2 separate regions of the Homo sapiens genome follow, and region 1 is linked to region 2. Evidence: fine-mapped QTL for protein levels in blood plasma. A gene starts in region 2. The other region holds a variant in brackets. All regions are shown on one strand. Distances are from middle to middle. Region 1 has its middle 1.6 kb from the start of ORM2. Region 2 holds the start of AMBP (alpha-1-microglobulin/bikunin precursor).

Evidence for each region. PIP is the chance, under the fine-mapping model, that this variant and not a neighbour inherited with it causes the effect. Protein levels are from antibody-based Olink assays in UK Biobank. Linkage for the fine-mapping came from a reference panel and not from the study's own genotypes, which makes the PIPs less certain.
Region 1: its variant is fine-mapped to the plasma level of the AMBP protein (UK Biobank, PIP above 0.99).

What each region holds. Positions count from the first base shown.
Region 1 is chr9:114,326,828-114,329,668 of GRCh38, reverse strand. No RefSeq gene overlaps it. Among named protein-coding and RNA genes, the nearest start is that of ORM2, 1.6 kb to the left of the region's middle. The variant G/A (reference allele first, on the strand shown) is at 875.
Region 2 is chr9:114,076,948-114,079,853 of GRCh38, reverse strand. AMBP (alpha-1-microglobulin/bikunin precursor) reads left to right here and starts at 1,554. Exons shown (of 10, transcript NM_001633.4): 1 at 1,554-1,761. The coding sequence starts at 1,645.

The DNA.
Region 1 (2,841 bases), 250 kb before region 2:
AGCCCTAGAGTATGGCTGCCCAAGGCCAAGGTGGGTGCGGGGCTGCAGCAACATTAGTAAACGTGTGAGTCCACAGATTTCCTAGAGAGGCCTCCCGCAGAGGAATCTCATGTCTTCATTCAATTCCTATCCCTCTGAGTGCCAAGACTTACTTCAGTAGGACCCAGCCACAAACCTAATGATGAAGCACCTTTGAGGGTCCCCAGGCTGGCATGGGATGTATGTTGTGGCGGGGAGAGTTGGGGTGAAGGATGCCGGGTGAAGGCAAACATGGATTCAGTTCCACTGAGTGTGGCAACAGCTATGTCAGAGCCAAAGTTCATTGGGGCCCCAACCCAGCCCTGGACGCAGGCACATTTCCAAAAAGGGACATCCAAGTTGAATGTCTATTTCCAGTAAATATACTACTCGAAGCATCTCCCAACATCTCAAACAGGAAACTGTCTCCCTGTTTTTCCCCATTCCCTGCCATCTGAGCAGGCAGCTTGCTTCTCTTTCACCAATATGCCCCCAATCCTGGAGCAGTGCCCAGCACTTCAAGGGCACTCGGTGTATACTGTGGAATGAGTGATTCCGTGGCCCATTTGCGTTCCTACCTTATGGGTCAAGTCTTTATTTGTATGAATAAATACTTTCAGAAAGTATTCTTTTTTTTTTTTTTCTCGGAGATGGAGTTTCGCCATTTTGCTCTTGTTGCCCAGGCTGGAGTGCAATGGCTCGATCTTGGCTCACCACAACCTCCCCTGCTGGTTTCAAGCAATTCTCTTGCCTCAGCCTCCCGAGTCGCTGGGATTACAGGTATGTGCTACCACGCCTGGCTAATTTTGTATTTTTAGGAGAGATGGGGTTTCTCCACGTTGGTCAGGCTGGTCTC[G/A]AACTCCCTACCTCAGGTGATCCGCCCACCTCGGCCTCCCACAGTGCTGGGATTACAAGCATGAGCCACCGCGCCTGGCCTTCCAGAGCGCCTTTCAACAGTGAACAGCAGCTGCTGTTTAGGGAGCACCAGCTGGACCCTGATTCTTACGCTAAACACTGGGCATTGTCTACTTCACACAGTCCCTGTACTAGCTCTCAGGACCCTCACTCTGCCCCCTTTTTACTGATGAGGAGAGTGAGGTTCCACTGGGCCATCTGCCCAAACTGGTTTGGGAGAGAGCCTGGGTTTGGACTCACATTAGTTTGACTCCAAAGTCCACATTCTTTGTTATGTGTGTTTTTTGCTTCCTCTACCTCCATGATTCTTTTTCTCTTGACCTCTGGTTTCTTCCTCACGTGGCTTTTCCTTCCATGTTCCCCACTTCTCGTCTCCCTTGCTTCTCCCTGCCCTGCCCATCACGACTCATTTCTGTTTCATTTTTCAGCGGATCCTCCTCAGTATGGTTGAAAATGGTGTCTTACTGAAAGTAACATTGAAATGGGGAAACTTCTTTTAGGTTCTGAGCCTTCAGTTCCAGGCCACTGTGGGACCCCAGAGGCTGTCCTGTCCACTTGCCTTCTGAGGACATCAGCTCGGTGTCCCCAGCCTCCGTGCTGTGGGCACAGCAGTGGTTTGGGTGCTGAGCAAAGGATGCTGTAGTCTTGGCCCTGTGGAGCTTGGCTGTTGGGACAGGAGGTACAAAGGGGAGTGGTGCCTGAGGACACAGGACTGGACCCTGGGGTGTCAGAGCCTCAGGCTCATGGTCTTATCACCCTGTATGGTGTACGCAGCTGCACATACGGAATAGATGGAACAACTCAGGCCCAACTTTTCTGCCACGGGAGGAGTGCTGCTTCCCTCACGTAACAAGAGGCTGTCAATCATGAGCCCCCAGGTCTGGGTGAGGCCGGCCCTTCGTGGCTTGTGCCACTGAGTGGGCTGTGCCTCGGGCTTGGCTCCACCTCAGGGCTCCACATTTGCAAGATGTCAACTGATTTCCAGGGACCAGCCTCACCCTTACGTGTTGTCTCCTTCTTCTGGGTCTCCCAGGTGAGCACCCTGAGGACACGTCCATGGAGACACCCAGCCCCTCTGGCCTGGGCCCCAAGCCCTCTGCATCACCCCAGCCCTTCCCTGCCCTGCCCTGTCCTGGCCCAGGCAACCGCCTCTTGCCTAGTTGCCCACAGCAGCCTTCACTCAGGCCTTCCTGCCTCCAGCCTGGTCCCCACAACGTGCCTCCCCCGATGGCCATGGTAATACTGGAATAAGGTCCTTGTGATAGGCACCACATGCCTGAACTCTCCCCACCCCATCCACCTTGTATTTGTCTGTTCTCACATTGCTATAAAGAACTACCTGAGACTGGGTAGTTTATGAAAAAAAGAGGTTTAATTGACTCACAGTTCCGCAGGCTTCAGAGGAAGCATGGCTGGGAGGCCTCAGGAAACTTACAATCATGGTGGAAGGCAAAGAGGAAGCAAGTCCCTTCTTCACAAGACAGCAGGAGAGACAGAGCGAAGGGGGAGGTGCTACACACTTTTAAACAATGAGACCTTGTGAGAAACAGCACCTGGGAGGTGGGGCTAAACCATTAGAAACCAGCCCCGTGATACAATCACCTCCCAGCAGGACCCGCCTCCAACACATGGGGCTGAAAATTCCATGTGAGATTCGGGTGGGGACAGAGCCAAACAATATCACACCTCCACTCCTGTTTAGGGTCTTCTGCCTCAAGGTTACTCAAATGCATCCTCTCATTTCCTTGCTTGCAGCAGAAACAGAAAAGGATTTTTTTTTATGACTAGTTGAAGTTTTATTACAATCTTGCTATTAGGAGAAAGGCCTTACAGTAGTCTCAGTTTAGAAATTCACATTTGTTTGCTTGTATTGTTTTAAATGGACACATAATGTACATATTTATGGGG
Region 2 (2,906 bases):
TGGTGAAACGCTGTCTCTACTAAAAATACAAAAATTAGCCAGGCATGGTGGTGGGCACCTGTAATCTCAGCTACTCGGGAGGCTGAGGCACAAGAATCACTTCAGCCCAGAATGTGGAGGTTGCAGTGAGCCGAGATCGCACCACTGCACTCCAGCCTGGGCGACAAGAGTGAAACTCCGTCTCAAAATAATAAATAAATAAATAAAACCTTAAGTTTAATAACTACTGTATTAGTTTCCTAGGGCTGCTAGGAAATGTGTCTTCTCTCAGCACTGGAGGTCAGACACCTGAGACCAAATTTTCAGCAGAGCCATGTTCCCTTTGAAGATTCTGGGGAAAAGTCCTTCCTTGCCTTTTGCTAGCTTTTGGTGGCTGCCATCAATCCTTGGTGATTTTTGACGTGTCACTGCATCCCTCCCATCTCTGCCTTCGGCGTCACGCCACATCTTCCCCGTGCTTCTCTCTGTGTCCCTGTGTCTGAGTCTCCCTCACCATTCTCTTATAAAGATACCGGTCATTGGATTTAAAACCCCTGTCATCCAGTTCAACCTCATCTAACTAATCACATCTGCAAATCAGGTTCATTCTGCGGTTCGGGGTGCACATGGATTCTGGAGGGGGCACTGTTCAACCCACCACAAACACTCAGCTCTTACTCTATGCTGGGTACTGTCCTAGCGCATTGCAGGTGCTCACTCAACAATGCTAGGAGCTAGGAACTATTATTATCCCCATTTACAGATGAGGAAACCAAGGCACTGAAAGGTAAAGTGACTTGCCCAAGGTCACACAGCAGTGAGTGCCACTGTAGGCTGCCTGGCTCCCACGTCCATGGTCTCTACCACGCCTTTCCCAGCTACTCCACTCCCGGCTGAGGGATTCTGGGCAAGTCACTTCACTTCTTGGAGACTCAACTCCTCTGCCTGTAAAGGGGACAAATAGCACCTACTTCGTAAGCTTGTTGTGGGGATTTACTGGACACCTGTGGCACGTGTAAAGTGCCTGGTACACAGCCAGCACATAGCAGGTGCTCAGTGAACGGAAGCTCGTAACAGTCATCATTGTTAATGTCTCTATTATTTGCAAAGGCTAGGGCAAGCCTGGGGGCTGGAGAAGGAACTCTGGAGACAGGATACCTGGGTTCTGGTCTTGGCTCTGCCCATAGACTTCCCTGAGGTCTCTGGCAAGTCACTTCCTCTCCTTGGGCCTCAGTTTTTTCCTGTGAGAAATGGGCCCAATCAGGCTTGACCTGCTGGCTCACAGAGCTGTGAGGTCCAGATGGCATGACTCAGCAGAAAGGCCAGGTCGCTCCCCATCCTCGCATGCCCTCTGTGGGGGACTTTTGGGGGGCGGAGCCCAATCCTGGTGCTCCAGGGCCCTATTGTGCTTGGCCAATGCCTCTTCTGAAGCAGCCATCCCGGCCTCTTGGTACTGCTGACCCCAGCCAGGCTACAGGGATCGATTGGAGCTGTCCTTGGGGCTGTAATTGGCCCCAGCTGAGCAGGGCAAACACTGAGGTCAACTACAAGCCACAGGCCCCTTCCCCAGCCTCAGTTCACAGCTGCCCTGTTGCAGGGAGGCGGTGGCCCTTCTGTTGCTAGACCGAGCCTGTGGGATATACCAAGGCAGAGGAGCCCATAGCCATGAGGAGCCTCGGGGCCCTGCTCTTGCTGCTGAGCGCCTGCCTGGCGGTGAGCGCTGGCCCTGTGCCAACGCCGCCCGACAACATCCAAGTGCAGGAAAACTTCAATATCTCTCGGGTAAGGCTGCCGCTCTCTGTGGTAGGGTGGATGTGGTGATGGGGAGTCCAGGCAGATGGGCCCTGCTGGGCAAGTGCGGCCTGTCTCGGGGTCTCAGGCTTCCACTCAGATCATCTGGGATTATGGGATCCTTTGAAGGTACAGCTCTATCCCCTGCCATTCCGTGGGTCTCTTGGCTGACATTCTATGAGTCAAACATCCTCACCTTCTGCACTGTCCTCGTGGGCTCCAAGGGGAACCCTTGTGTTAATGGGAACCTGCTCCAGAGAAGGCTTTGTCCTGCCTGCCACTGCCCTGCAGCCCCCGTGCAGACACCTAGCTTTGCCCAGACCTCCCAGCCCTTCCTTCTCTAATGACTCCCCTCTCTCTGTGGCATCTTTCCCTTAGCTCTTCCTGTGTCCCCTGCCCACATCCTGGCCTGACTGTGGACAGACACCTGGGGTGGCACAGCGTGGGCATGTGGCCAGCAGCTTTTGGGTTGGGCATGTGGGGCTTATGGGAAGAGGTGAAGCAGGACAGAGATTAGGGTTGGGAGACATTCAGAGGCTTGGGCACAAGGAGAGACCTGGACTGGGGCAGGACACTCTCCTGTGAGTGTGGAGTGCCAGAGCTGCCTTCCAGCCCCCACTCTGCCCTAAATCCCGGGGTGGCTTTGAGAATACCCTTGCCCACCTGGGGCTGTCTCCATGTCTGTATGAAGGGTCTCAGAACCTTCTAGCTGTGGTGTCATGTGGGTTTTGTTTACTTTTAGGGACAAGGAAAGGTCGTGGCAGAGGGGCAATGAGGAGCAGGTCCCTGTGGCAGTCTGGGACGCAAAGGGTGTGGGGCACATTGGCCTGTTCCGTAGGAGCCTGAGGGCTCCTTCAGCTGTCCCGTGCACTTTCAGGAGGAAGAGGAAGCAGGCCTATCCTGAATGACCCCATCATGTTCATTATACTTTTGAAATAATTCCTAACATGGGGCTGTGGGCTGCCTTGCAAGGTGGGGAGCACCCCATCATTGGAGGAGTAAAAGACAGGACTCCAGCTCTTGGGGAGCAGTGGTTGATGGAGCTATGGACAGATCCCACATCTTGAGAGAGTTAGCCCTTCTGCAGGGCAGGTTGGGACCCCAGCCGCACACCTGCTTCCTGGGTTCGCTGTGAT